Linked DNA regions of Homo sapiens. The protein of the gene in region 1 purifies or fractionates together with the protein of each later gene. This does not show direct contact. Each region holds a gene or a part of one and is shown in the gene's direction. Other genes may lie near its edges.

Region 1 (4,311 bases):
ATATACGTATATATATACACACACACTTTTTTTTTTAAAGAAAGAGCTTGGGATATATATTTCTATACTTTTTTTAAGAAAAAGATTGGAAGAGACATATATATACACACAGACACATACATACATTTTAAAGAGATTGACGTATGTTTTTAACCTTTTTTTAAAAAAGAAATGGGATATATATATATATACTTTTTTTTCTTTTTTTTTTTTTTTAAAAGAGATTGTTTCTTGCTCTGTCACCGAGGCTGAAGTGTGGTGGCTAACTGCAGCCTCGACACAAACTCCTGGGCTCAAGCAATCCTCTTGTCTCAGCCTCCCAAAGTGCTGGGATCCCAGGCCCAAGCCACCATGCCTGGCTTAAAAATGTAGTACATTTGAATTGTATCCTTTTGAAATTGTTCGTTTTTTGGAAAGAAGAATAAGAGATGAAGAAAAATCAGACTGGAAGAGGGTTGTTTTTTCCCTTTTGTAGTTGCAAATCCTAAGTGGGCAGTGGTAAATTTCTAGAATCATTTGTAGCATTCTGTTTTAAACTTGGCAATTTAAAGATGTTATAAATGAGGAGTCCCCAGAAAATGGTCATTTCATTATCAAAAGCAGGGTTGCAAATTTCAGATTGATCTTTTCAAAAGTTAGATTTGTACTTGTTCTCAGTGTTCCTATCTCTGGAAACTAAAGAACCTCCTCCATTGTTAGCTGAAAATTGCACAGTGAATTTGAAAGTCAAGATGTCCCAGTCATGGACATAATGCTGCGATAGGTTACTTTTTGGAATGGAGAAAACATCTTAGAGATTGAGTCTGCATCAGAATATATTCTGAATGAGCATGGAATGTTCTTTACCCATGTTAGATATTAATTAATTAAGTTTTTCCATGTTTAACTTTTTTAAAAAAGCAAGACAATAAAAACAGTCTTGTAATCTGAACACATATTTTGGGTTTTGTTGCTAGCATAAAAATTATTACCTAGTGGATGGTAACACTGTTTTGAAATTCTAGCTTGGAGGAGATGTTTGTTACAAGAGAAAAGGTGTTTCATTGAAACCTAACAGGGTAATTTACATGGAGAGATACTTGTTTCTCTTTTGAGTTATTGTTAGGTTAAGACATAAACTTAGAAAAATTGAGATGCTCATCTTTCCCATCTTAGATTTACTTTCACTATGAACTTTATAAATTCTTTTTTTTGAGACAGTCTCACTCTATCGCCCAGACTGGAGTGCAGTGGCGTGATCAGAATTATTCAAGCTTATGTATGTGTGTGTATTACACATATATTACACATATGTATAAATATCAAATATCTTTTTTACATTATATATAATGGTATATATGGTTGCTATATGTTTTATGTGTGTATAGCAGTATCTATCTATACTGCCTTATTTCCCAGGCATATTTATATGCGAAACTTTTTTTCTGTGAAATCTTATTGTACCAAGAGGAATAAGTATATATGCCCACAAAAAGACTGGGTCATAGCAGCTTTTTTCACAGTAGGAATAAACTACTGATTCACATAGCAACATAGATGAATCTCAGAAATACTGTTCATAGCAAGAGAAGCCAGGCACAGATGAGTATGTATAAGTGTTTATGATGCCATTTATGAAAAATACAAGAACAGGCAAAACTAAGGTATGGTGATAGAAATCAGGACAGTGGTTGCCTCTGGGTAGGGGTTGTGGTTGACTGGAAAGGAGCACAAGGAAACTTTCTGGCATGATGGAAATATTCTGTAGCTTGACTTGGGTGATGGTAATTCAGTTATATACTTTTTGGGTAACTTCGTTTTCATGTAATTTTTAACTTACAGAAAAGTTGCAAGACTAGTACAAAGAGCTTCCGTATACCTTTATCCAGTTTTGCCAATTGTTATATACATTTACTCAAACATATTGATTCAAACTTAAGATTTTATAGTATGTAAATTTTACTTTAATAAAGGAAAGAAAGCTAAAAAAAGTGTTGAAAATGAGGATGATCTTGTTATCTAAAAAACATGAAATACCTCAGTTAGGAATTAACCAGTGGTTTAATAATGATGAGAAAAAGAATCGTTGGCTGTCTTTTGTCTTCATGTATATGTATTTATACTGCTTTTCACTAAAGACTCATGACATGTTTCTGTTAGAAGAAACAGGATCCTCAAAACGATTCAAGGTAGAACTGCCTACAAGGCAAACCTGCTTTATTTTGTTATCCTACACATGTCACCTAGGGAATGTGACTGAAACCTAGCAATAGCTTTCTGGGAATTGGAAGTTGTGACTGTTTCTGTTAAAAGAGTTGTATACCTACAATGTGCTAGCTGTTGCAAAGACATGAACAGTTTTTACTATCCTAGAACTTAGCCAAAGAAGAGGAGGCATACAAATCTGGTTGTTGTTTTTGGGTGGTGCTATTTTTCATAGGCAGGAAAGACATTGGTGTTTGTAAACTAAACTATTCTTGATCATTGGTAAGTGGTAAATCTGTCACTGTCTACTAGATTTAATGTTTCCACAGCCTCAATAGTGTGATTTGATTTAGATTAAATCAATTTAAATCATAGCTTAAACAATAATGGCTAAAAAAATTCAACTTTCCAATTCTACTACTTATTTTATGTAATTTTTAGTATGTGTTCATTACAATTTAGTATTAGGCATAATTAATGGATATTGGTTCTTTTTGTTTTTTCTTTTGAAACAGGGTCTAATTCTGTTGCCCAGTCTGGAGTGCAGTAGTGCGATCATAGCTCACTGCAGCCTGGAACTCCTGGGCTCAAATGATTCTCCTGCCTCAGTTTCCTGAGTGGCTGGGACTATAGGCGTGCACCACCATGTCTGGCTAATTAAAGAAAAATTGTAGAGACAGAGTCTTGCTGTGTTGCTCAGGCTGGTCTTGAACTCCTGGCCTCAAGTGATCCTCCCACCTTGGCCTCCCAAAGTGTTAGGACTGCAGGTATAAGCCACTGTGCCTGGCCTGGTTCATTTTTTTAAATCTTTTTTTTTTTTCCATCTACATCAGAAAGTTGTTTTATTTGGTCATATAGTCGAGTAGAAGATGTTTGAAGTAACTGGAGGGCTAACCAGATGCTTCAACAAATTAATCATTGATATTCAACATAAACATTTATTTTGCCTTTACTCATGAAAATAATAAAGTTATATGACCTATATATTTTTATTTATAAGTTTTTAAATTTAATATATTTTTATTTCAATAGCTTTGGAGTACAAGTGGTTTTTGGTTACATGGATGAATTATATCATGGTGAATTCTGAGATTTTAGTGCATCTGTTACCTGAGTAATACACATTTTACCCAATATGTAGTTTTTTATTCCTTTCCCCTGCCCTCTTCTGAGTCTCTAGAATCCATTATATCACTCTGTATGCCTTTGTGTACTCATAGTTTATCTCCCACTTATAGGTGAGAACATGCAGTATTTGGTTTTCCATTCCTGAGTTAGTTCACTTAGAATAATGTATCCAGCTTTATCAAAGTTGTTGTAAAAGACATTATTTCATTCCTTTTTTATGGCTGAGTAGTATTCCGTTGTGTGTGTATGCCATGTTTTCTTTACTCATTTAACTTATATATTTTTCAACAAAAACATAATTCTTTGAAGAATGACAGATGTCTGATATCAATCAACATGGATAAAAGGACTAACTTCTTCCATGTAATAAACATGTTCATATTTCTCTGAAATGACAGAATAGGCCTTTTCCCCTTTTATGGTCCATTTCACTATGGTGTTTAATTGATCAGTCGAGAATGAAGAAAACATTCTTTGAAAAGTATCTGCCAGAATTTTGTTTAGAATGGTCAGCCTTAACTGAAGATAGGATTTAAAAAGTATACCTGTAAGTAGACCTTTTTAGACTTTTTATTATGAAAGTTGCATACATACACAGAATCGTAGAGAATTGTCTAATGAAGTTCCATATACCTCCTCTCCAGATTCTTTAATGAACCTCCATGTACCCATTCCCCAGATTCATTAATTACTGACATTTTGGTTATTTGTATTTCATATATTTTTTTGAGACAGGGTCCTACTTGTTGCTCAGGTTGAAATGCAGTGGTGAAATCACAGCATGCTGCAGCCTTGACCTCCTAAGTACAAACAGTCCTCCCACCTCAGCCTCCACAGTAGCTGGGATTACAGGTATGCATCACCATGACCAGCTAATTTTTAAGTTTTTTTGTAGAGCCACAGTCTCACTATGTTGCTCAAGCTGGTCTTAAAATCCTGGGCTCAAGCTGTCTTCTTGCCTTGGCCTCCCAGAGTGTTAGGATTACAGGCATGAGCCAC
Region 2 (4,311 bases), on another chromosome or scaffold:
GAATAATGTTATAAGTTCATGCTTTGAGGTCTCTTCTCCAAAGACATAACAATATTAGACACAGAAAGAGAAATTAATATAGCTAGTTTCAAAACCAAGATTAACTTCTCTGAGGACCAGATACAGAACACAAATGCAGCTCAATAAGACTGTATAGATTCAGGCCAAGAGGGAAAATTCTGATTTTAAAATTTATGAAGCGTAACAGTTCTAAGATGAAGCTAAAGTCTTAAGTATGGCTTCTGAGATAGGTTGCTAAAGTGGAAGAGATAGGAAGAAAAATCAGTGGTTTGAATTGGTCCTTGTTTTTTCTTATTTCTTTTCTCTTATTCTCTTATACACATCTTTTTGTCTTTTTCTTTCCTTACTAATCTTTAAGTCTACCAACAACACAAAGAATCTAATTGTTAAATGTATAGTTCAGCCTAGTTATAGGAAAATAGTTTTTTACCCTATACTAGGTGTTTTATTCTGTTCTTCAACGGGAAGTACTATTCTTTTTAATTTTTTAAAAAGATGGGGTAGGCTGGGTGCGGTGGCTCATGCCTGTAATCCCAGCACTTTGGGAGGCCAACGCAGACGGATCACGAGGTCAAGATATCAAGACCATCCTGGCCAACATGGTGAAACCCCATCTCTACTAAAAATACAAAAATTAGCTGGGGGTGGTGGTGCACACCTGTAGTCCCAGCTACTCTGGAGGCTGAGGCAGGAGAATCGCTTGAACCCAGGAGGTGCAGGTTGCAGTGAGCCGAGATTGTGCCACTGCACTCCAGGCTGATGACAGAGCAAGACTGCGTCTCAAAAAAAAAAAAAAAAAAAAAAAAGAGAGAAAGAGAGAGAGATGGGGTCTTGCTATTTTGCCCAGGCTGGCCTTAAATTCCTGGGCACAAGTGATCCTCCTGCCTCAGCTTCCTGAGTAGCTGGGACTATAGGCACATGCCGTCATACCCAACTCAGAATTACTATTTTTGATTACTTTCAAAGTAAACAGTGATGAACAGGTTACAGTAAAATAAAAATGTAAATGAAATTCATGTAATTTTGATTATCATTTATTTTTATTTATTTATTTATTTATTTTACTTTTTCTAACCTAGGTTGTAGGTAGTATGGATGCACACCCAAGCAGATACTGTGCCACAGTAAGAGTTCAGAGACCCCGACAGGAGATCATCCAGGACTTGGCCTCCATGGTCCGGGAACTTCTTATTCAATTTTATAAGTCAACTCGGTTCAAGCCTACTCGTATCATCTTTTATCGGGATGGTGTTTCAGAGGGGCAGTTTAGGCAGGTTGGTTACCTAGAATCTCATCAGACTATGGTGAAATCAGATATTGTGTTTATAATATGGTGTCTAGTTCTAGAGTTAAAAACCTTGTTAGAGTTCCCCAAGTCAAAACTTGGTGTTTTGTTAGATTGTCTTTTTGAAAATGTTCACTACGAATGTGTATGCCTTGCTTGCTAAGACCATGTTCTAATAATCGTTAAAATGGAATCTATTAGCTATAGAGTGGTGAAATTAAGGAATCCTGAGATTAAATCATTATCCTACTTTGAAGTATATAAAAACAAATAGCTGACTATATTGAATCTTTCCATTTCATATTCTCTAGGTATTATATTATGAACTACTAGCAATTCGAGAAGCCTGCATCAGTTTGGAGAAAGACTATCAACCTGGAATAACCTACATTGTAGTTCAGAAGAGACATCACACTCGATTATTTTGTGCTGATAGGACAGAAAGGGTAATCTCACCTCTGTTGTAATACTGTTATAAACCAAGCTTATCCAACATAGTTCATAGAGCATTCAACAAGGGCCCTCTGCCAACAGCAGGATTTCCAATATATAGTAGCAAATTTCAACAATTACATTATGAGTATAGAAGCATCAAAATAGATTATTTTTAACTTTCTAGAATTTCTAGTCACACTCCAAATATTCAAAATCTCATTCTACTTTTTTGTTGTGAAGAAACTCATGGTTTTAAAATTATTCTTCTATTCATATTTTCCTAAAATCTTCAGAAAAAACAGTACATTCTCTTTTTAAAATATCTCATACAAATTAGTTTTTTAAAAAAGTGGAAATTCAGGCCAGGCACAGTGGCTCACACCTGTAATTCCAGCACCTTGGGAGGCCAAGGCAGGCAGATCACTTGAGGTCAGGAGTTCAAGACCAGCCTGGCCAACACGGTGAAACCCTGTCTCTACTAAAAATACAAAAAATAGCCAGGTGTGGTGGCGCACATCTGTAATCCCAGCTACTCGGGAGACTGAGGCAGGAGAATCACTTGAACCCAGGAGGCAGAGGTTGCAGTGAGCCGAGATGGTGCCACTGTACTCCAGCCTGGGCAAGAGAGCAAAACTCCATCTCAAAAAAAAAAAAAAAAAAAAAAGTGGAAATTTATACAAACTAACTTTTAGCCATGTTTCCTTTAAAGTTCACAGAATTATTTTATGCATTTTATAATGTGAATGTATATTTTTTATAATTAGGAAGGAAAGAGAGGTATAAATACCTAAGGAAATATGTTTTCTTTTTTTTTTTTTTTTTTTTTTTTGAGACGGAGTCTCACTCTGTCGCCCAGGTTGGAGTGCGGTGGCGCGATCTCAGCTCGCTGCAAGCTCCGCCTCCCAGGTTCACGCCATTCTTCTGCCTCAGCCTCCTGAGTAGCTGGGACTACAGGCGCCTGCCACCATGCCCGGCTAATTTTTTGTATTTTTAGTAGAGACAGGGTTTCACCGTGTTAGCCAGGACGGTCTCGATCTCCTCACTTTGTGATCCGCCTGCCTCGGCCTGCCAAAGTGCTGGGATTACAGGTGTGAGCCACTGCGCCCGGCCAGAAATATGTTTTCTTATCTGTGTGCAGCAAGACAGCAGTCTTACTGTCATTTTCAGTGCTCTGATCACATCTGCCCCCATCCTGTAAATCTTGGAGCAGAGAAATCTAATGATACCAAGTGTTGTTTCCCCTTGAGAAAGGGATTTGATAGAAAGGACTAAGAGAGGGGTGTTTTTCTTTGCCATACATACTCACTGTATTCCTTTGGGCAAGCAACTTAACATCTCTGTGTCTGTTTATTTCTTAGCAAGATTGGATAATATTAATATCTACCTTATTTGGGTTGTCGGGAGAATTAAATAAAATACGTAATGCACTTAGAACAGGGCTTGGCCCACACTAAGTACTCAGTAAAGATTGGCTAGCTCTCATTAGTAGAGTGATGAGAACAAAAAAAAATTAATAAATAAAGTTTGGCTAGCTGCAGAGTGGTGGTGATAGTGGTAGAATAGAGAAGAAGAAATAATAATAGATATTGTTCTAAGTATTGCTTATAAATTTCATCAATTTAATCCTCACCAACAAGATTATGAGATAGTTGTATTTTTTTGTTTTTGTTTTTTTTGACAGTTTTGCTCTGTTGCCCAGGCTGGAGTGCAGTGGCATGACTTTGGCTCACTGCAGCCCCCACCTCCTGGGTTCAAGTGATTGTCAGGCCTCAGCCTCCTGAGTAGCTGGGATTACAGGCATGTGCCACCACACCCGGCTAATTTTTGTAGTCTTATTAGAGGCAGGATTTCACCATGTTGGCCAGGCTGGTCACAAACTCCTGGTTTCAAATGATCCGCCCACCTCGGCCTCCCAAAGTGCTAGGATTATAGGTGTGAGCCATCACACCCAGCCTACAACTTTTTGTATATATTAATTAGAAGATTTACGTGTTGCTAATTTATTAGAGTTAAGTATTTTTTTAGGACCAGGCATAATTTAGTAGATTATGAACTGTTTTGTTTTGTGCTTGGTAAAGTGAAGCTGGTTGGTCCACACCACTATAATTCAAGGTACTACCTTATAACAGTCACTCACGTGGCAAAAATATTATCTGAGTCAGTAAAATAGTTTCTGATTTGCTAGCCTTGTAAACCTAGACTTACAGTTAATGATTTTAAATGTGTTGGGATAAGGCGGTGGAGGTGGGTATAATAAACATTTTTAAGTGTTTTATAAGGAGCTTGTATCATCAAGAATTTTGGGTCATTTCAGTTATATTATATCCACTCAGAGAAAATCATGGTGTCCTCTTACAAGATGTTGAAACTGATAGTATGAAATAAAAGGAATAAGGCCTTTGCAATTATTTCATTGTTTGAATCCCAGTTCTGCCCTTTATTGTGTGCTATTGAGCAAATTATTTTGTATTCCTGAGCCTTTATTTCCCTAAACAAATGGAAATAATCCCTAACTTGCAGGATTGTTACCAGGTTTTAGAAATAATGTGTTCAAAGTGCCTGATCCATAA
Region 3 (4,311 bases), on another chromosome or scaffold:
ACCAACACTACTCTTGTGCTTTTGGGCCATTATTAAGTAAAATGGCGGTCACTTGAAGACAGCCACTATGATATTGAGTCAGTTGTTTGATAACTGAGCAGGCTACTAAGTGATGGGCGGTAGCGTAGACAGTGTGGATCTGCTAGATAAAGAGGTGATTCACATCCTGGGTGGGATGGTGCAGGATTTCATCACGCTACTCAGAATGCACGTAATTTAAAACTTATGAATTGTTTATTTCTGCAATTTTCAATTTAATACTTTCCCACCCGGTTGACCACAGGTAACTGAAACCATGGAGAGTGAAACCACAGATAAGGGAGGACTACTGTAGTTCAAGTAATCTATGAGTTCATCCATCTTTTGTTTTGTTACTTCATTGGTTTATTGGCCTGTAAGGTCAGCAACTCATTCTCCCCTGGCCCCCAAGTCCTCACCCTGGTCCATCACTTCTGCCCAGATTTCATCTATTTTGTCCTTTCACGATGTCATGACTTCATCAGGTCTCTTCTTCCTCATTTTCCCCATTCTCTGTCTGCTGAGTTGGGTCTTGCTGACTTTATTTATTCCTCTCTCGTGGGTTTCCTTAATTTATGATGCAGTTCACACACTGCACTTTATTTGTTGTTTCAGTGCCTCCTCAGCCCCCTTTTCAGGGGCTGGCTTAGCGCTTCTAAGATGTAGTTGTTTAGTTTCATTTGCTTCTCCCCTTCCGTTTCAGAGCATGGACTCTTCACACCGTCATGCCTCTCATTACCCTTGTGGCCCAGGGCCAGTCACTTTATCCCTCTGAGCCTGTTTCCCCATCTGTAAAGTTGGGGCAAGGATAGTGACTAATTTCTAGAGTTGCTGTGATGAGAATTAAACATGCCAGACATGACCCTGTGGGTAGCAGGCTTGGAGGGACTTGTGGGGGTTCCCTGCCTCCCCATGGCCCCTACCCAACCTCCCACTCATTCCTTTCCATGCCCCCTGCAGACGAAAGACGGTCACTGCCTGGGACACAGCCATTGCTCCCCTGGATGGCGAGGAGCTCATTGTCGAGGTCCTTGAAGATGTCCCGCTGACCATGCACAATTTTGTGAGTGCAGGGTGGACGGTGGGGGTGGACCATGGTTGGGGGTGTCCTTGACCAGGTCTCAAACTTCCCTGCTCTGTGGCATCAGGTACGGAAGACCTTCTTCAGCCTGGCGTTCTGTGACTTCTGCCTTAAGTTTCTGTTCCATGGCTTCCGTTGCCAAACCTGTGGCTACAAGTTCCACCAGCATTGTTCCTCCAAGGTCCCCACAGTCTGTGTTGACATGAGTACCAACCGCCAACAGTGAGCCCAGCCTGGGGTGGGTGGGGGGATGGGGAGCACAGAGGCCCAGCCACGAGGCCCTTACAGACAGCTGACCCGTGTCCCCTTGCTTTATACCCTTCATGCCCTCAAGGTTCTACCACAGTGTCCAGGATTTGTCCGGAGGCTCCAGACAGCATGAGGCTCCCTCGAACCGCCCCCTGAATGAGTTGCTAACCCCCCAGGGTCCCAGGTAGGGATGCCTTAGCTGAAGAGCTGCTGGGGGAGAAAAAGATCTTGGGGCTCTTGTAGACCACGAGCCATACTTTATTCATTTGTTTACTTGACAAACATTTATTGAGCACCTACAAGTGTGAGTAAGGGCATGAAACTGGGACCTTGGGCAAGTCACCTCATTTCTCTGGGCCTCAGTTTTCTCATCTGTAAAGAGGGGATGATGATACTTTCTACCATATAAAGGTTCTGGTGAGGCTTAAATGAGTTAAGACATGTTCAGTGCCTAGAACAGGATCTGGTACAGTGTAAATAATCAATTTTTTTGTTATTAATTATAAATATATTTATAAGCATCTAACTACTTTGCTAATTCTAGTATAATCATACTCAAGCCTTTCCATTTTGAAATACGTATTATTTTATCATAAATTACTTCCCTTTTATTGCTTTTTTATGTTAAATATTATATAAAACTATAGCTATATTAAAATATATTATTGCTCTAATATATATTTTATGATGTGCATATTTTATGGTATATTTATGTTATTGTATCATGTTGTATTACATAATTTTATATAATGTAGAACATCATACATGTTTATATGATACATAAAATAAAGTTAGGGTATTATTTTAAATTATGAGTGTATGTGCATTAATTACCTTTGAGTTTCATTTCAGGATAGTGAAGGGAACATTAACATATTTTTGTAACTTTACAATATGTTTAGCATATATCATATGTATAACATGTATGTATAACAATATGGTAATATGTATATTTTAAAACATTGCCATTTTTATATAGATGATACATATTATATAACATTTGAAAAGTACATGTAATTATAATATATAATTATAAAATATGATACATTACCCTTTCCCCACTATCTGTGTGGCCTGCTATCCTGCCTTTAGGCGTTTACTCCATTGTCATCTCCTCCTCAGAGAAACCTTTCCTGACACTTTCTAGGAACACTTTGTGTCTCCTTATTTTGCTTTACTATTTTTCTTTATTGCACCTATCACCATCAGGCATATTATATATTTGTTTTTTATTTCAGCCCCACCAGGGCAAGAACTGTTATTTTGTTTTACAGTTTTATCTCCACCACCTAGAATGGTATCTGGCACACAGCAGGCACTCAATAAATGTTTCTTGAAGCAATGAATAATAGTACTGCCAGTGGACATTCGCTCTGTGTGAGCCAAATGCATGTTTATGGCTGGGGGTGGGGTGGGGGGCTTTCTCGGTTCTCTGATTCCTGGCAGTGATTTCACAGCCTTTCCCCTGGCAGCCCCCGCACCCAGCACTGTGACCCGGAGCACTTCCCCTTCCCTGCCCCAGCCAATGCCCCCCTACAGCGCATCCGCTCCACGTCCACTCCCAACGTCCATATGGTCAGCACCACGGCCCCCATGGACTCCAACCTCATCCAGGTTGGTGCTGTGGGGGACAATGCCGGGGACCACAGGGCAGAGGGTAGAGCCATCCCTGTTGGCCTCCATGCCCTCTTTTTGACTCCTGTCCCTCTTCTTCTAGCTCACTGGCCAGAGTTTCAGCACTGATGGTGAGTCCCCTGTGCCTGCACCCTGACCCCCGCTGCCCCACTTACCTCCACTCACATCCTCTCTGCAACTGCAGCTGCCGGTAGTAGAGGAGGTAGTGATGGAACCCCCCGGGGGAGCCCCAGCCCAGCCAGCGTGTCCTCGGGGAGGAAGTCCCCACATTCCAAGTCACCAGCAGAGCAGCGCGAGCGGAAGTCCTTGGCCGATGACAAGAAGAAAGTGGTATGCTCGAGGGGGATCCTTTTGGGGCCACCAAGGCTGAGTGACGTGGGATGAGGGATGTGGGCAGGCCTCTTAGATGCCACCCATCTGGCCCACAGAAGAACCTGGGGTACCGGGACTCAGGCTATTACTGGGAGGTACCACCCAGTGAGGTGCAGCTGCTGAAGAGGATCGGGACGGGCTCGTTTGGCACCGTGTTTCGAGGGCGGTGGCATGGCGATGTGGCCGTGAAGGTGCTCAAGGTGTCCCAGCCCACAGCTGAGCAGGCCCAGGCTTTCAAGAATGAGATGCAGGTGCTCAGGTGAGGTGGCATGTGTGCGTGGATGGGGGTGGCAGGCCCGGCCTTGGCATCTCTCTGGGAAAAGGCCATGCTTGGAGTGCTTCCTGGACATCACCTGTGTTTGTGTTGTTAAACCATCATCAGAAGTTGTTTCTCTCTGAAGGGTGTCCCTTTCCCCTCTGGGAAATGAGTATGTTTAGAGGACCTGTGATCATGCAGTTGTTTGTGTTTGGGTTATTAATGAATGGTTCTGCCTCCAAAATGTGGGTCTTCTCATTTGCCTGCTGCGAACTGGGTCTGTGTGTGGGCCACCATTCTTGTTACTGCATTGCCAGGAAGGCTTCCATCTTTCCTTCCCCTCTGCTTGGGCTACAATGGTAATGTTCTGTTTATAGTGTTGGTTCTTGTTATTCATTAATTCTAATACCTTGATTTAAACAATATTATCATCATCACCATAATCTAATCATTGCTTAATTATTATAATTGCTGTAATATGTAATCAATACAGTATTCATCTAGTCACGCTAAGAAAGCCAGGTGTCTCCTTTTTGCTGCTATAGTTACTATGTAGCATAGTACTGTATACCTATATACTACAGGTAGTACTGGATAGCGTCTACCAACCCTGGGGATGTTGGCATTGGCTTTTCCTCTGTGTCAGATGGGCACAATTATGTTACAGAGAATAAGGTAGCTAATGCAATGATCAGTTTTA
Region 4 (4,311 bases), about 55 Mb from region 1:
GCTCCAAAATGGCTGTTGAAGTTCCATTTCATCACTTCTACATTCCAGGCAATAGGAAGGAAGACATGGGGGCAGGGCAAATAGACATCCAAGTTCTTTGAAGGAACATTCCCAGATGCCTCTCTTAACAACATCCACACATCATTGGTCAAAGTAACATGGTCGAATGGCTACACGTAGCTCCAAGGGAAGAGGAGATCTGCCCTCTTTTATCTGATGACTTTTCTGTCCTAAATAAAATCAGAGTACTATTGCTAAAACAGAAGGGAAGAGTGGAAACTGGCAGAAGATAGCTGTGTCTGCCACAGATGGGTCTTCAGAAACTATCAAGTTGAGTAGAAGTCACCAGCCACTGACAAGCCCATGAGTCTCCATGAGTCACAAGTATTTCTTTGGAGCAGGGTTGTCTCACTGTAGTGTCAGATGAACCCTACTCACCGGGACATACCCTCATGCTTTGAGGAACCCTTTTCACTTCAGGGATGTTGTTCAGGATAGATCTGCCACATACTAATTGCTGTCTCAAAACTGAAAATTGTTATAATAATGGTTTCATGTCTTCGCTAGTATCATATTTCTAGTCAAGCACTGGTTTTTTATTATTATTTACAGAAATGACTTTGCTAGAAGGATAACCACACACATTAAAATTTTGCCTAAGTGTAGAACAAATGCTATTGTACATCCCTTGAGTTTTACACAATTTAAATTTTTTCATGAATTGTCTTACTTGGAAAGAGTCATACTTTCCAGCCTTTTGACAGACTTTGTGTTTACTGTGAATGTACCCTAAACTTTGGAAAATATAATAAATATTTGGTACTAGAAATATGTATAAGTATGACTACAAAAGCATATACATTTCACACTTTGATTCAATAATTATTATTTAATCATTGGATTTTACTTTATAGCACACTTCAAGAAACACCTAACTTGAACATGTATTCCTGTGTTTGTGTAATTAAAACAAATACGACAACTTACTTTTTAACGCCTTTCTTCCTCTCCTCCTTCGTTCCCCCACCCCCATCACAGATCAGTGATTTCACTTAGGTAGACTGTTTCTATGAATATATTTGAAATTTTGCTTCCTCATTACCCTGCAGCTTTGTCTCTGTTCTTTTTATTTTTTTCTGCTAATTAAAACCAGTGTGTAAAACATCTTGTATTTGGTAGTTGTTTGCTCTTTAATCTCGCCTTTTCTGAGCATGGATGAAAAGTTAGGTAGTTCTGCATGCCATTCTGCATGAAATGTTATTAACATGAACTATTTGAAAATGAGTCTATTTTTGTAGTTAATCATTTTCCGTGTTACTGTTTGTGGTTGTTTGCATGTATACTGTATATATGTGTTTTTGCAGCCTATTCCAAGCCTAAACGGGGCCACCGTAAAACTGCTTCATTTGGCAACATTCTGGATGTCCCTGAGATCGTCATATCAGGTATCATAGACCACCTGAGTTGGTCTAATAGCTGTGGAACCGGAATAATGATCCCTGGTACTTGTAAAATGCTTCTTGCTCCAATTTTTACAAGACATGAAAATGGATACCTTGCATGCAGTAATTAGGGAGACAGATTGAAAAACTACATTTATTCTGAAGCAGTCTTGAAAAGATACCTCTGATCTACAATAAGTGAGGATAAAATAGAAGAGAAAGTAAACCTTTTTGGAGAAGGGAGAACACCAACCCAGAATTCTACCAACTTCCTCTCTACTTTTAAGTGAGCACATGAGCTAAACCCAGACCTTTTTTGCACCCAACAGAAAGAGGAAACAACTAATTAAAATTTGTTATTTTCCTTGGCTCCTTTCCTTCCTCAGTTACTGCTTTTTGGGTCCCCTCTAGACTTTCTGTCCTAACCTCTTTCTGTTGGTAGCAAGTGAATGTGAAGTTGAGAGAAGAGAGTTGCTAAATAGCATTTTGCCTTAACCTGGAAAACAAAAAGTAAAGCTAAATGAGATGTGCTGTTTTGCAGGGTATCTTGCCAAAGAATCATGTAAAATAGTTGGTCAATTCTGATTTTTGTGTATTATCAGGAGAATCTCATAAATTACATGTTTTTATACCTAACTTACACATGGTACTTTAGTGTCTAAAATTGGTAAACTGCTTTATTTCTTATGGTGATCATTTCATAGAGGAATATGTTACCATTTTTAATAGAAACTTAAATGGCATATTGACCTTCAGTATTGATTAATGTATTATCAAAATTATCATTTATTTATCCCTTTAGGCTTTTCTCTACCTCTTTACCCAAAATCTTGATAAGGAAATACATATTTTCCACACACGTTCATGAGTGCGAGTTGGATGAATTCTTCAGCATGCTGTCCTTTGCCTGTGATTGTGTTTTTAGCAGTGTTGATAATTCTAGTTGAATACCTAATGGTTATTTTCTCCTCTACTAAACTGAAAACTATGTAAGGATAGAATCCATATCTTTGTGCATTATTTTGTTGTTGTTGCTTATTATTGATTGTATCAGCAGTTGCTGGCTCAGTGCTTCACATATTAAGCATATTAACATAGTGTTTAATAAATACATTTATTAAATAAATGAACAGACCTATTGAGCATCTCCCCTGGTGAGAAACTAGCATACAAAAATATGAATTATACTATTCTTAGGTGCCATTTTGTCTGTATAAAACTATCTTATATTAATTTTCCCCTGGTTATCAAAGTGGTTTCTTATTTTACAACATCATTACTATTGCTATTCAAAGAGTAGAGTTAACCCATTTTTCACATGGTAATTTTTATTTATTGAATCTGGACTGCTTCAGAAATTAACAAAGAGATCATTTTACATGGAGATCAGTTTACCTCCATGCGGAAAGGTACTGTGTATAAGGGACGTACTTTAAAGAGGTGGAAGCATTTAAACTTACATACCGCTGAACTGTGCTTCCCTTAAATGTTTGAGGGAATCAGGAAAATTTAGACAGATGGCAGTGTAATCTTATGACTAAGCATTAAGAATAAATTTATATATGGCAGCGTAGCCCACGCTATACAAGATAATGGGGGAGGGAAAAATAAGGAAAGAATAATAGTTTATAACTGTCAGGTACTACTGGCATCTAGTGGGCAGAGACCAGGGATGCTGCTAAACATCCTGATGTGTACCAGGCAGTCTTCTCCAACAAAGAATGATCCAGCCCAAAATGGCAGCAGTGCTGAGGCTGAAAACCCCTGATTAGATGTTCTTTGTGCCCTACAAAGTAGCTTAAAGTACATCTTATTTTACCTTTATACAATCTTACAACTAGGTTATCGGATGAAATTATAGCTGTTTAACAGACGAAGAACTTAGATCTGATGATGTTTAGTGGTTTTTCCAGAATCATATAGCCAGGACCCCAACCCAGATCTTCTGACTCCAAGTCACATCCATTTTTTGTTCTTTTGTTTAAGTCAGAGAAGCTAGAGTAATTTCTTCTTGCTTTCTCTTAGTGTTCACATTAAGGAGAGCTCTTCAGCCAGGGAGATCCTCTTTTATGACATTGGGCCTTTATGGAATCAGGTAACCTTAATTCTCTTAATTGCCAGAGCAGCAGTGCTATTCATATGAAAATATTATTCAGTAATACCTTTTATTAAATATTCTTTTTAGGCTTTTCCCCCCTCAGATATCAAACATTAACTTACTCAGGTGCACTTTCTTTAATAGAAGAATACAAGCTGTAGAATTGACACTAGTGGACATAAAAGCCAATCATGAATGTGCTCATAGGTAATGTTTTTAAATTAAATATAAAAATACCGCCCATCCTTTGGGAATATCTCAAATTTCCTACATGACATTTTAATTGTAAAGAAGGGTGATACTTAATTTCCAAAATTTCTTAATACTTTCTAGAAATTGTTTTGTTCTAAGTGGATTTCCCACAAGCTTTATGGTATTAGCAAATACTTCTTGATATATTCAAACTGTTTAATTAGCATTAAAACCCAATTGCAAGGATTCTTTTTAAATATAGCTTTTTAAAGATCTTATTTACATGGATAAGAGTTTCGTTAATACTTCCCTTTGGCCAAGTGCAATGTACTGAGTCTAATGTACTTCTTGGAATGAACTACCTCTCTTAATAAGAGCAATCCTTCAAGCATCACAAAAAAGGTTTTGTATATATATCTTTAAAGTCACTAAAATGTCTAACCTAGTCATAGGTAAAGAAATGCAAAGACCCTAATCTTGTAATCTTGTTTTTTGCTCGCTCTTCAAAATGTGTATACTATGCCATCAGTCAAATGTGGAAGAAAAAGCAACTTAGCAAAACAGCACTATTTATCAATT
Region 5 (4,311 bases), on another chromosome or scaffold:
TCTCAGGGTGGACAGCTGCCCCGGGGGCCCCTCCTCCAAGGGGGTTAGATAGAGCCCATCAGGGCCTCTCCTTGGGAAACCCCTTGGGTGAGGGGGCAAGAGTCCATTGGGGTCTCCAGCTCTGAAGCCTCCATCACTCGAGGAAGAGCTCGTGCCTCTCCCTGCACAGGCTCTCAGCCTCCAGACCCCATGGCAGAGCCTTTGCTTCCCCTCTGTGAGGCTGCCTCCTTGCCCATGGAGGGGCAGGTGCAGAAAGGCCAGCGGGGGACCTTGGCCGGAGCATCCCACAGAGATGAGAGACATGTGACGCTCCCTGCTCCGCCCTGCTGTGGCTTTATTCCTTACCTGTAGCGGGGGCAGGTGCGACCCTACCCATGTCAGACGGGAACCCTGGCATGGAGACCCAGGCGCCCTGCTAGGTGGGAGGCTGGGGACACGTGGGCCTCCCAGCATGGTCCCCATTTTCTGTGTCCCTGTCCTGGAGCCCAGCTCTGCCTGTGGCAGCCAGAGACACGGGTTGGGCATGCAGGTGTGACTGAGTGGCTAATTAGGGCCCAGTTGTGGGCCATCTGTATGTGGCAGGGCTGGGTAACTGCAGGCCTCTGGGATCTGTCTCAGGCAGGTCTGTGGTGCAGAGCGAGGTGCCCACCAGGGGCTGGCCTTAGGTTCCATCCCCATGTGCTGCATCGGCCCCTCCCCTCCAAGTAGCTCTGCCCTCCTTTCTTTGAGGCCTGCGGTCCTCCGACTCCCTTGAACTTGCTGGACCCCCAGGTTCTGGTCCAGGGTCTGGGAGGAGGTTAAATGCAGGGAATCCGTCCCCAGGCTGGGCAGGGAAGGACTCCCACCCTTGGTGCCTGCACGTATAAGGGGAGGTGGGGTCAGTCTGGCACCCTGGCTGCTAGGTGGTCTGTGGCCAGCAAACCGTGCCCTGAAGCTTCTAGTTGGGAGGGGCAGAGGCCTTGCCCTGCAAAGCCCCAGGCTGAGGGGCTGGGGTTGGGGTGGGGTTTACCAGGACCTGGTTCCTGTAAGCCGAGGTCTCCTTCCCTGGCTCTTCCAGCCTCAAGCCAGCAGTAGCAGGGCAGCCTGATAGAGTAGGGCACCCCAGGGGTGAGGGGAGACCAGGAAGGCAGACACCCCTGTCTCCTGACAGCCTCGTAACCATGCAGGAGACTCACTGTGACTTGTCCCACACCCTCCCCAGTGTCTCCTCGGTTGGGGCTGGGGGCTTCAGGGATCAGGGAGAGGCTGGGTGCCAGCAGCGTGCCTGGTGGCACCTGGGACAGGGCCTTGCTGGGGGTGGGTGCTGTGGGTGTGCTCGCCAGGCCGAGGCATTGGGAAGGAACGAGGTGGGGAGCTCTCTGGAGAGGCACACGGGTGGGTACCAGCTGGAGGTGTTGCCTGAGCAGCTGGCAAGGCTGGGGCCTTCAGATTAGGCCATAGGTGAGTGGCCTGGAGCGCCTGGCCAAGGAGCAGAGCTGGGCAGGGGCCAGGGGCTGTGCTGGGCCTCTGTCCGGGGCTTTTCTCCGGGGAACGGTTCCGGGGCAGTGGGCTCGAGACTCTGGCCCTGGGGATTGCATACTGGGGCAGATCGGACCATCCAGGAGCGAGTGGGAGGTGGGTGTGCCGGGGCTTCACACCGGTTTCCACTTCTCTGGCCTGTGTTGACACAGGCCACCCTCCCCACCAGGCTGGTCCCGAGCCCCCTCCTGGCCCCCAGGCCTGGAAGACAGCTTCCTTGCTGCCTGGCCAGGCCCCCTTGTGGTTGCCAGGGCCTCGATGCTGGAATGTCAGAGGCCCCCCACTGGCCCCTCAGCCTCCTCCTGCTTTGCACAGGCTGGGCCAGAGCCTGCCACGGAGCCCCAGCGGCTACACACTCCACTCACTCACACCTCTCAGGGCCCCGCACGTTCCCACAGCCCTCAGGGTGTACGTGCTGTAGGTGTGGCTGTGCCCCAGGTATGTGTTCCCCAGGTGTGCTTGTGCCCCAGGTGTGGCTGTGCCCCAGGTGTGCGTGTGCCCCAGGTGTTCGTGTGCCCCAGATGTGGCTAGGTGTCTAGATGTGTTCTAGATGTCTGTGTATTCCAGTGTGGCTGTGTCCCAGGTGTGCGTGTGCCCCAGGTGTGTGCCTCAGGTGTGCGTGTGCCCCAGGTGTGGCTTTGCCTCCAGTGTGTGTGTGCCCCAGATGTATGTGTGCCCCAGGTGTGGCTGTGCCCCAGGTGTGCCTGTGCCCCAGGTGTGGCTGTGCCCCAGGTGTGCCTGTGCCCCAGGTGTGGGTGTGCCCCAGGTGTGGGTGTGCTCCAGGTGGCTGTATTTCCCAGGTACTCAGGGTGAGGTTGGGAAAAAAGCAGGACATTTCTACACTAGGTGGGACAAGCAGGTTTCTGGGGTGCCCCCCTCATGCCAGCCCCTCTGTGGGATCTCCATACCCCTCATCCTCTGAGGCCTGGCGCACGGCGGGGCTCAGAGACTGAAGGAAGGACTGTAGGAGTGGACGATGGTGGGGGTTTGACCTGACGCCGGGCCAGATGCCCTGTGTGGCTGCCTCAGCCTGGAGTAGAGTGTCTGAGCTGGAACAGGGGTCCTAGCCCCACTCTGTGAGGCGAGAAACTGAGGCTTGGAGAGAGGAAGAGATGGGGCTTCCCAGGACCTGGTGGGTGGTATGCAAGGGGAGCTGGCTGGTGCAGCGGGGGCTGTGGTGAGGGCCCTGGGAGGGGCAGGGGGATGCACGCAGACAGAGGCTCTGCCTGCCCGCAGAGTGCCAGCTGATGAAGACGGAGCGGCCCCGGCCCAACACCTTCATCATCCGCTGCCTGCAGTGGACCACTGTCATCGAACGCACCTTCCATGTGGAGACTCCTGAGGAGCGGTACGTGGGCTGTGGCGGCCAGGCCAGGCACTTGGGCAGCCCCAGCGCTTAGGAGGGACACGGGGATGGCGGGGTGCTGGCACCTCTGCCTGTAGCCATCCTCACTCCCCAGTGCTCCCAGGCCCTCCTCAGAGCCCAGTTTGGAAACTGGCCCAGTCCTGCCTGTGGGGTTTGGGTGGGGAAACTGAGGCTGGAGATAAAAACTGGCTAGGGACCGGGTGCAGTGGCTCACGTCTATAATCTCGGCACTTTGGGAGGCCGAGGTGCGCAGATCACTTGAGACCAGGAGTTTGAGACTAGCCTGCCAACATGGTGAAACCCCCGTCTCTACTAAAAATATAAAACTTAGCTGGGTGTGGTGGTGCACACCTGTAATCCCGGCTACTTGGGAGGCTGAGGCACAAGAATCGCTTGAACCCGAGAGGCAGAGGCTGCAGGAGCCGAGATTTTACCACTGCACTCCAGCCAGGGCGATAGAGCAAGACTCCGTCTCAAAAAAAGAAAAACCCGGTGGAGAGGGCCAGTCCTCCTTGGGGGGCGGAGTCCTGCTTGGGAGGCGGAGTCCTGCTTGGGGGGGGCGGAGTCCTGCTGGGGGGCGGAGTCCTGCTGGGGGTTGGAGTCCGGTTGTGGGGACAGAGTCCTGCTGGGGGGCTAAGCCTGGGTGTCCCCCACGTCCAAGAGGGCTTCGTGACCCTGAGTGTATGTGGCCAGACCAGGTCAAGTGGTGGCCTCCTCAGGGCTGTCTCTGGGAACCCCGACAGCTGTGGAACCACGCTTGTGAGGCTGGCGGGTGGGTGAAAGACGTGGGGTGGAGCTCCTGATCTGGTACAGGCCTGCAGCCTCACCTGACCTCCTGCAGGGAGGAGTGGACAACCGCCATCCAGACTGTGGCTGACGGCCTCAAGAAGCAGGAGGAGGAGGAGATGGACTTCCGGTCGGGCTCACCCAGTGACAACTCAGGGGCTGAAGAGATGGAGGTGTCCCTGGCCAAGCCCAAGCACCGCGTGGTGAGGCCTGTCCCCACTTCTGCCTGTGCCTGGGGCTGCCTTGGACTGTGGAGGGCTGGGTGGGTCATGGGGTCCCAGCTCGGCCCAGGAGACACTCAGCACTCCACGGCATCTCCACCTAGGCCGGTTTTCCATGTAGGGCGCAGCTGCTTCCCAGGTGGGTCCTCTTCCCCATGTCAGAGGAAAACTGGGGTTGCTGAGCCCTGCCAGGCTTGGGCAATGTTACCCCACCCTTCCCTGAACCCCATGCTCTGAGCTGGGGCCGCAGCCATGTGTTCCCTGTAAGCCTGGACTCCCCGCTGAGCCCAGTAGGCCACCAGGTGTGAAGTGGACGCCTCTCCTGGCTCTGCCTCCGACTCTGGGGCCCCTCATGCCACCCCACGCATGCCGACCAGCTGGGCACTGTTGGCAGCGCCGCTTGCTGACCCTGGTGCCTGC
Region 6 (4,311 bases), on another chromosome or scaffold:
GAAGTTGCCATCATCAGGAAGGTGGTTGGGGAAGGGGTCCTCGCTAAGGCAACATGGAGCCCAGATGGCACGGGTGCCATGGAGTCAGCTGTGGGGGGCTCTGAAGGAAAAGCATTCCAAGTAGTTGGAACAGCCAGTGCGAAGGCCTTGAGGTTCAAGAAAAAAGTGGGCTCCGCAGAGTGCAGTAGCTCCCGCCTGTAGTCCCAGCACTTTGGGAGGCCGAGAGGGAAGGATCGCTTGAACCCAGGACTTCAAGACCAGCCTGGGCAACATGGCAAACCCCATCTTTACTGAAAATACAAAAATTAGCTGGGCGTGCTGGTGCACACCTGTAGTCCCAGCTACTTGGGAGACTGAGGTGGGAGGATCGCCTGAGCCCAGGGAGGTCGAGGCTGCAGTATGTCATCATTGGGCCACTGCACTCTGACCTGGACGACAGAGTGAGACCCTGTTTTTTGTTTTGTTTTGTTTTGTTTTCTTAAACAAAAAAAATGGCCTCAAGAAAAGGTGAGAAAAGTGAGGGGCTGGTGTAGCTGGAAGGAAGAGTTACCAGGGGAGGTGCCGAGGCAGATTGTGTAGGGCCCATGTAGGCTGTGGTGACAACTTGGGTTCTGCTGTGAGATGGGAGCCGCCAGGGTTCTGAGCAGAGGACGGAGGGACCTGACCCCACTTGGGTGTGCGCTGGCACCTGTGGGCGCAGGGGCGGAAGCTGGGAGACCAGGGCACGGGAGGTGGACGCGTACTTTTTCCTGGGGCCATCTCCGGTGCAGGGATTGGGTATGGGGCGGGGGTAAGGGACAGACGACTCCCCAGAGTTGATAGGCCGTCCCTGCCCGCAGGCCCGGGTGGAACGCATGGAGCAGTTCCAGAAGGAGAAGGAGGAACTGGACAGGGGCTGCCGCGAGTGCAAGCGCAAGGTGGCCGAGTGCCAGAGGAAACTGAAGGAGCTGGAGGTGGCCGAGGGCGGCAAGGCAGAGCTGGAGCGCCTGCAGGCCGAGGCACAGCAGCTGCGCAAGGAGGAGCGGAGCTGGGAGCAGAAGCTGGAGGAGATGCGCAAGAAGGAGAAGAGCATGCCCTGGAACGTGGACACGCTCAGCAAAGACGGCTTCAGCAAGGTGTGCGGGGCGGGCGGGGCGGGCAGTGCGCATGCGCAGCCAGAGAGCCTGCAACCAGGACGCATGCGCACCCAATGCCTGGTCAGGGGAGGACCCCGGTGGTGTAGTTGAAGAGTGTGGTGGGGGGCGGGGAGCTGAGGGATGGACGGGGGCCACGTGGGAGGGGGGACAGGCTTGGGGGGCCGGGCGGATGAAACACCCCACCGGTCCCCTCCTCTGATCTGCCCCAAGGCCCATGCCCACGCTCCCGCCACCTTGATGCTCATGGCTTCGTCACCACCTCCGCCGTGGATGGGATGGGCGCTGCGACCACGGCCCGCCCGGCCGCGCTCGAGGCGCTCCGCAGCCTTGCCCCAGCCCACTCCCCCTCTCACCCTACCACAGAGCATGGTAAATACCAAGCCCGAGAAGACGGAGGAGGACTCAGAGGAGGTGAGGGAGCAGAAACACAAGACCTTCGTGGAAAAATACGAGAAACAGATCAAGCACTTTGGTGAGTGGGGCTTGTGGGTTATGGGGGGCAAGGTCGAGGCAGGCCCTTTGCCTCCAGGGCCCTCCAGCACCTTGCCAGCATCTTCCCACAGGCATGCTTCGCCGCTGGGATGACAGCCAAAAGTACCTGTCAGACAACGTCCACCTGGTGTGCGAGGAGACAGCCAATTACCTGGTCATTTGGTGCATTGACCTAGAGGTGGAGGAGGTGAGTGGAGCTTTCCCCGGGACTGTGAAAAGGCGCTGCCATGAGGCCGCCACTTGGTGACGCTGTGCCTGTTCTTCCTGGCAGAAATGTGCACTCATGGAGCAGGTGGCCCACCAGACAATCGTCATGCAATTTATCCTGGAGCTGGCCAAGAGCCTAAAGGTGGACCCCCGGGCCTGCTTCCGGCAGTTCTTCACTAAGATTAAGGTAGGGTCCCTGAGCTGCCAGGTGGCTGGAGGCCCCCTCCCCAGGGAACCAGCCCACAATGCTCTAGGTAAGGCCGACTCCTCTCCACTGGGACTCAAGCCCCTCCAGTCACCGCATCCTAGATCAGGAGAGGGTGGGGCCAGGGAGGAGGAGAGAAGTGGGCAGATTCTGCCAGACTTTAAAAGTGGAGGCCGGGCGCAGTGGCTCACGCCTGTAATCCCAGCACTTTGGGAGGCTGAGGTGGGCAGATCACCTGAGGTTGGAAGTTTGAGACCAGCCTAACATGGAGAAACCTCATCTCTACTGAAAATACAAAATTAGCCGGGCATGGTGGTGTGTGCCTGTAATCCCAGCTACTCGGGGGGCTGAGGCAGGAGAATCGCTTGAACCTGGGAGGCAGAGGTTGCTGTGAGCCGAGATCGTGCCATTGCACTTCAGCCTAGGCAACAAGAGCGAAATTCCATCTCAAAAATAAATAAATAAATAAATTAATTAATTAAATAAAAGTGGAGGTCAGGCCAGGCTTGGTGACTGAGTACTATAGTCCCAACTATTTGGGAGGCTGAGGCAGGAGGATCACTTGAGCTCAGGAGTTTGAGCTGTGGTTTGCCACTGCACTGCAGCCTGGGTGACAGAGCAAAACTGCATTACAAAAAAATGTGGGAGCAGTAGGATGTGCTGAAGGTACCCAGGTGAATATGTGGGTAAAGGACAAAGGTGAGGGTGCCTCTAGGGTTTTGGGTTTTAGTTCATTTTTGAGACAGAGTCTTGCTCTGTCACCAAGGCTGGAATGCAGTGGCGTGATCTCAGCTCACTGCAACCCCTGCCTCCCGGGTTCAAGCAATTCTAGTGCTTCAGCCTCCCAAGTAGCTGGGATTACAGGTGCCTGCCAGCCTCAGGGTTTTTTTGTTGTTGTTGTTTTGTTTTTTTTGAGATGGAGTCTCACTCTGTTGCCCAGGCTGGAGTGCAGTAGCACGATCTCGGCTCACTGCAACCTCCGCCTCCTGGGTTCAAGCGATCCTCCAGCCTCAACCTCCTGAGTAGCTGGGACTACAGGCATGTGCCACCATGCCCGGTTAATTTTTTGTATTTTAGTAGAGACGGGGTTTCACCGTGTTAGCCAGGATGTTTTCGAACTCCTGACCTCGTGATCCGCCCGCCTCGGCCTCCCAAAGTGCTGGGATTACAGGCGTGAGCCACCGCGCCCGGCCTAGCCTCTAGGATTTTTAACCTGCGTACCTGGAGGAACAGGGCTATCCTTACCGAGATTAGGGAGACCAAGGACAAGGCAGGCTGGGAGGTGGCCATGTTGAGTTAGAGGTGCCCATGCAGGGACACTGAGGACATGAGTGTCTCAGATCTGCAGTAGAGCAGGGCTCCCAAGCAGGTGGTCTTTGGCAAATGCCAGATGAGGTCCCCGGCGGGGGAGCCCAGGCCTTGGGGAGCCCTTCATGTAGGTCAGGAATAGACTTGGGGAACCGTGGGGCGCCTCTGAGGAGCTGTGGCTGGAGGGTCCTGGGCCCCCCAGTCCCTCCTGAGCGTTGGGCCAGGTCCAGTGAGCACTGCCCAACCCCCATAGACAGCCGATCGCCAGTACATGGAGGGCTTCAACGACGAGCTGGAAGCCTTCAAGGAGCGTGTGCGGGGCCGTGCCAAGCTGCGCATCGAGAAGGCCATGAAGGAGTACGAGGAGGAGGAGCGCAAGAAGCGGCTCGGCCCCGGCGGCCTGGACCCCGTCGAGGTCTACGAGTCCCTCCCTGAGGTGGGGCTCCCCGGCCCAGGCGGGCAGCAGGAAGACCCTGAGCGGGACCCCCCAGGGCCACAGGGACCCAGCCCCTGACCCCAGCCCCTCTGTACCCCCAGGAACTCCAGAAGTGCTTCGATGTGAAGGACGTGCAGATGCTGCAGGACGCCATCAGCAAGATGGACCCCACCGTGAGTAACCCCCGCGCCCCATGCCTTCCCGGCGGGCCGTGTGTCTCCCCCAGCCCTGTGTCCCAAGTCTCTGAAGCCGGCTGGTGAAAGTGCCCCTCCAAGGCTTCTCCAAGGAGTAAGGGGGGTCGTGTCACCTTGGCACACACCCACATATATTGAGCACCTACTGTATCCCAGTATCCAGCAGATAAATGCTGAGCTTTGAGCGCATGTCCTTCGTGACTGTCACTGTTACTGTGACTGAGTCCAGCCTCAGTTTCCTTATCCAAACCACATTTTCTCTCAATATCAGCTCACAAAATGCGTGGGAAAGGGAGGTGAGCACATGGCAGGGGCTGGTAAACGCTGGCTGTT
Region 7 (4,311 bases), on another chromosome or scaffold:
GGTGGAAGGTGCAGTGTTAGGACACTGCTCTCTCAAGCCCGTGTATACTGGTGAGTCTCCAGTGCTCCCTCTTGGGGGGACGTGGTGTCCTGTGGACTCACTGTGACCTCTTGAGTGTCACAGTTACCCTGAGTGTGGCTTGGTAGGTTTTGCCCACCTGGTCAGTAAGTGTCCTGGTGGCTGCCACCTCCATGGATGAGAGCTGCTCTCACTTGCGGGCCCTTTGCTACCTTTTCTCCCTTTCTGTGAGCACCTAGTGGTTTAATCCCATCAGAGAGTCCCATCACACTTGGGCATGTGAATGTACCTCTTTCAATTGTAAATATTATGAAATCTAAACACAGATCAAGTATTTCTGTTGAAAAAGTGCAGTGCTCATCTAGGGCAAAGTAGACAAACCCACTCTGTTGCTTCTTGGCCACTCTGGTAAGAATTTTGAGCCCAGCCACTGACCACAGCAGATGCAGCCAGTTTTCTTGTTTTCTGTGTCTGTATGACCACTGATAACAGGGCATGGTGTGGCCAGGGCCCTCCTCTGTGTCCCTGGGACAGGCCAAGCAGCCAGGGTCACCTAGGTACATACAGCACCCCTCACGTTTGCTCTCATACTGCAGTTCCAGTTGTCTTTTAAGTTTTTATGGTAATGACATGAGTCTCACAGACCCCAACACTGAGGGCTGGATCTTAAATGCTGGGTGCTGCTTCCTTTGACCAAGGGATGTCTGTGCCATCCCCACAGAGGTGCCCAAGGAGGCCTCTTTTGGGGTTGTTTCTTGATGGTCGTTTCTCCTTCCCAAGCCATCAGAGAACTTTAGGGAATGGGGCTGGAGGACCCCCTCATGCAGCAAGCTTGGCCCCAGTGAGGAAGAAGTGGGGACAGGGCATGGTGCCCTGTCATGGGGTGAGGACTCCCCAGGAGATTCTGTCATGCATTAGGCTGAGCCCTAAGTCTCATAGGTCCCAGCTTACCCCTAAGATAGCAGAATGTTGGATGTTGCTCTTGGAAGCAAGAGAGATCACTGGAGAGGTAGTTGGTTGATAAGAGCTAAGCAGAGCCTTCCATGGCAAGCATGGGGGCAGGCTGGGTTGGCCCAGGACAGGTCCTGGTGTGGGGGGGTGTCATGGGTCTTGGAAAATAGCCTTTCTTCATGAGAGTGGGCAAGGTGTGCACATGGAACAGGCACTGTCCTGAGTATCCAGGACCTGCTGAAGAAGGATAAAGGCATCTTCCAGAATGTCAGTCCCCTCAGGTATGTGCCTCCTAGCTCTTCCCTGGGATATGTTAGCACAGGCAGCAAATGCATTCCCAGGCACAGAGGGTCCTGCCTTGGGTTCTGGCACCCCCTCTTGTCTGTCACCTCCCTTTGTGTAGTTGGTCCTGAGCTTATCCTGGACACCCATCCCTCAGTGGGCTCTGCTCTGTCCCCAGCCCTGGACACCTGTCTCAGGTCTCTGACTCAGGTCTCTGTCCTGCTTGTCCCCAGGTGAACCTGAGCAAGGTGGGCGAGTATTGGTGGAACGCCATCCTGGAGGGAGAAGAGCCCATCGACATTGACAAGATCAACAAGGAGCGCTCCATGGCCACCGTGGATGAGGAGGAACAGGCGGTGTTGGACAGGCTTACCTTTGACTACCACCAGAAGCTGCAGGGCAAGCCACAGAGCCATGAGCTGGTACGAGCATGGCAGTCCTGGAGAGTCCACCCTTTAGGCCCTTGTGCTGGTGACAAGGCCGATAGTGGCAGAGGGGTTGGTGATGACGGTGGGGAAGAAGGTTGTGTGGACCAGCTTCCTGCCATGTCCTAGCCTAGCAAGGAACCTGTCTTACCTGCTCTTGTCCCCAATCACTGCCTCACAGGTGCACTCTGGTCTTTCAGCTGTGTTCTCATACCTGGGCTGAGAGCCCAGTTAACAGGACCTCGAAGGGTGTCATGAGATCTGCCCTTCCTGCACCAGAGCCTGGTAACATCAAGTGTGTTGATGGCTTTTGTTTGTGCCTCATCTGCACATATCTTCCCATGAAGAGTCGCTTGGTGGGACCTTTGGTAGAGGAGGGGAGGGAGCCAGATTGCAGAGCCAGTTTCTGGATGTTGGAGGCCAGCATGTGAAGACTCTGTGATGTCAGCAGTGGGTTAGGGAGGAGGAAGAGAAAGGTTCCTGTCTGACCAGTGTAGTGCCCAGTGTAGAGTTTGCTCATGGCCAAAGAGAATGATTAATTAGATGTATACATTCTTTCTTCCTATTTTAATAACTCCAAGAGTAGCTATTTAGGGAAAAAAGGGTTGCTTTCCTCAGATTATTTTTAACTTCCCGTGTCCCATATACCCAGCACGTGGGTTTGGGCCGCAGTACAGCAGGGCACGCGGACGCAGTGCAGCCTTGAGTCAGTGGGGAGGGGTCATCTGCTGGGCACAGTCTCCTTATTTTTGTTCTGTAAACACGGACCGCCTCCTCCCCCTGAAGATCGCTGATCGATATTTTCTTCTCATTTTGTCTCTTGGAGGAACCTTACCTTGTGGTGTATCTGGATTGTCTTAGTCTTACCTTCCGGTACAGCACGTATTAATACATCGTAGGTGGTTCTGCAAGCCCTGTTGCTGTGTCTCGTCCGTTCTTGCCTATTTTCACAGACAGGTGCATCCTGCTCTTATGAGGTGAAGGAGCCTGCGGAGAGGAGTGTCAACATGTTCTCCTCACCTGGCCCTGCCACACCAGGGGCATGTCCTGAGCACTTAGTACACACAGTTAAGGTGGGGTTGACTGGCTGCACAGTACCCCTGAAAATACAGTTTGTTTGTTTTTTGTTTTTGTTTTTGTTTTTTTCCCCCCACAATAGAGAGATTGAATTTCTGAGGTTGTGACTCAGTAGCTTAGGCAGCAGGGATGGGGTTTGACCTCTGATTTGATTTCACACCTGTCTGTCCTCACAGCCCTGTCCACCCTGGCCCTTGTCTCTATGGAAGAGAATGTTCCTCTAGGTTTGGCCCCCTTTTCCACCCGGGGCATGGCAAGCTTAAAGGACATCTTTGCTTGGCCTACGTCCATGCAGAGTTTGAAGCCTCAGGTAGTATTGCAGCACCTGCTCAGCTGAGCTCAGCTCAGGTGCTTAGACAGCCAGACCTGCCTGGTTATGGCTCATTCCAGTTATGCTGCATTTGCCTGTGGCCACTAGATGAAAGGCCAGCCTTTGAACCTTTGCCCTGTGGGTAGGGCTTCTCATGGTAGTGTTTGGGGATGGTGTATGTGAGGGTCTGCCCACTCTGTGCCCATATTCAGCATTGGGTCCACAAAAGGACTGAGATGTATTCATGAGTTGACCTTCGGGAGAAAGAGTCTGTTTTGACTGGAGAACATGAACCCAGATGCCTTTTGTTCCAGAAAGATAAGAAGGCAGTCTTACCATGTACCCCTTAGAAGTGTCTTTTTGTGCCACAGGATGGAGGGACTAAGGTCAGGTGGTTTCTCACATCTTCCCCAGACACTGACACTGAGCCTTTGTTACAGAGAGATGATAAAAATTATTGTAGTTTGAATGGTATTTGTGCGTTTGTCAAAGCCTTGATGAAGTTTTTGTAGACTTTATTTTATTTTATTTTTTAAATTTTTTGAGACAGAGCCTCGCTCTGTCACCCAGGCTGGAATGCAGTGGTGTGATCTCAGCTCACTGATACCTCCGCCTCCCAGGTTCAAGCGGTTCTCCTGCCTCAGCCTCCTGAGTAGCTGGGACTACAGGCGCACACCACCACGCCCAGCTAATTTTGTATTTTTAGTAGAGACGGGATTTCACCATGTTGGCCAGGCTGGTCTCGAACTCCTGACCTCAGATGATCCACCTGCTTTAGCCTCCCAAAGTGCTGGTATTACAGACGTGAGCCACCACGCCTGGCCAGTTTTCTGTAGACTTTAGCTGTTGAGGCATGAGAGAAGCTAGGATGCTCTGGCTGTTTTTATCTGTGAGCCCTCATGTTTCCTGTGATTGTATCTCTTACAGAACTTTATATTCAAAAACAAAATAGCAGGAATACCTGCTCATCATTGGAGTTGCCAGTAGTGCCAAAGACACGCATGGAGGTGTCAGGGGCTCCACCAGCCTTTTCTTCTCTACATCCTTGCCCCTCCCCTTCCCTCCTTTCTTTCTGTTTCCCTTTTCTTTCCCTTACATCCTCCCCTCTCCTTGACCTTCCTCTCAGTCTCTTTCCCCCATCCTTTATGTTCTGTGCCAACACCTTGTAACATTGCATAGTCTCACCCCTCTATTGGGGCACGTCGGTGAGGAAGACAGACACAGATCTGCCTTTGTGGTGCTAGGATT

What was found.
Region 2: the proteins of FKBP5 (region 1) and AGO3 purify together in Homo sapiens (affinity purification with mass spectrometry; 4 studies listed by BioGRID and IntAct, with this or other methods). This does not show direct contact.
Region 3: the proteins of FKBP5 (region 1) and ARAF purify together in Homo sapiens (affinity purification with mass spectrometry; 4 studies listed by BioGRID and IntAct, with this or other methods). This does not show direct contact.
Region 4: the proteins of FKBP5 (region 1) and MAP3K7 purify together in Homo sapiens (affinity purification with mass spectrometry; 4 studies listed by BioGRID and IntAct, with this or other methods). This does not show direct contact.
Region 5: the proteins of FKBP5 (region 1) and AKT1 purify together in Homo sapiens (affinity purification with western blotting; 3 studies listed by BioGRID, with this or other methods). This does not show direct contact.
Region 6: the proteins of FKBP5 (region 1) and CDC37 purify together in Homo sapiens (affinity purification with mass spectrometry; 5 studies listed by BioGRID and IntAct, with this or other methods). This does not show direct contact.
Region 7: the proteins of FKBP5 (region 1) and NUDCD3 purify together in Homo sapiens (affinity purification with mass spectrometry; 3 studies listed by BioGRID and IntAct, with this or other methods). This does not show direct contact.

What each region holds. Positions count from the first base shown.
Region 1 is NC_000006.12:35,678,811-35,683,121, reverse strand, and holds part of FKBP5 (peptidyl-prolyl cis-trans isomerase FKBP5), read left to right. Parts: intron 1-4,311. UniProt on the Homo sapiens protein: Immunophilin protein with PPIase and co-chaperone activities. Component of unligated steroid receptors heterocomplexes through interaction with heat-shock protein 90 (HSP90).
Region 2 is NC_000001.11:36,038,690-36,043,000, forward strand, and holds part of AGO3 (protein argonaute-3), read left to right. Parts: intron 1-1,100; coding exon 1,101-1,295; intron 1,296-1,617; coding exon 1,618-1,752; intron 1,753-4,311.
Region 3 is NC_000023.11:47,563,819-47,568,129, forward strand, and holds part of ARAF (serine/threonine-protein kinase A-Raf), read left to right. Parts: intron 1-978; coding exon 979-1,081; intron 1,082-1,166; coding exon 1,167-1,321; intron 1,322-1,424; coding exon of another isoform or gene 1,425-1,433; coding exon 1,434-1,532; coding exon of another isoform or gene 1,533-1,536; exon of another isoform or gene 1,537-2,157; intron 2,158-2,820; coding exon 2,821-2,962; intron 2,963-3,065; coding exon 3,066-3,093; intron 3,094-3,167; coding exon 3,168-3,313; intron 3,314-3,411; coding exon 3,412-3,614; intron 3,615-4,311. UniProt on the Homo sapiens protein: Involved in the transduction of mitogenic signals from the cell membrane to the nucleus. May also regulate the TOR signaling cascade. Phosphorylates PFKFB2.
Region 4 is NC_000006.12:90,541,686-90,545,996, reverse strand, and holds part of MAP3K7 (mitogen-activated protein kinase kinase kinase 7), read left to right. Parts: intron 1-1,364; coding exon 1,365-1,445; intron 1,446-4,311. UniProt on the Homo sapiens protein: Serine/threonine kinase which acts as an essential component of the MAP kinase signal transduction pathway. Plays an important role in the cascades of cellular responses evoked by changes in the environment.
Region 5 is NC_000014.9:104,775,214-104,779,524, reverse strand, and holds part of AKT1 (RAC-alpha serine/threonine-protein kinase), read left to right. Parts: intron 1-2,754; coding exon 2,755-2,866; intron 2,867-3,725; coding exon 3,726-3,873; intron 3,874-4,311. UniProt on the Homo sapiens protein: AKT1 is one of 3 closely related serine/threonine-protein kinases (AKT1, AKT2 and AKT3) called the AKT kinase, and which regulate many processes including metabolism, proliferation, cell survival, growth and angiogenesis.
Region 6 is NC_000019.10:10,392,732-10,397,042, reverse strand, and holds part of CDC37 (hsp90 co-chaperone Cdc37), read left to right. Parts: intron 1-839; coding exon 840-1,115; intron 1,116-1,499; coding exon 1,500-1,608; intron 1,609-1,699; coding exon 1,700-1,815; intron 1,816-1,899; coding exon 1,900-2,022; intron 2,023-3,601; coding exon 3,602-3,784; intron 3,785-3,885; coding exon 3,886-3,957; intron 3,958-4,311. UniProt on the Homo sapiens protein: Co-chaperone that binds to numerous kinases and promotes their interaction with the Hsp90 complex, resulting in stabilization and promotion of their activity. Inhibits HSP90AA1 ATPase activity.
Region 7 is NC_000007.14:44,389,659-44,393,969, reverse strand, and holds part of NUDCD3 (nudC domain-containing protein 3), read left to right. Parts: intron 1-1,484; coding exon 1,485-1,673; intron 1,674-4,311.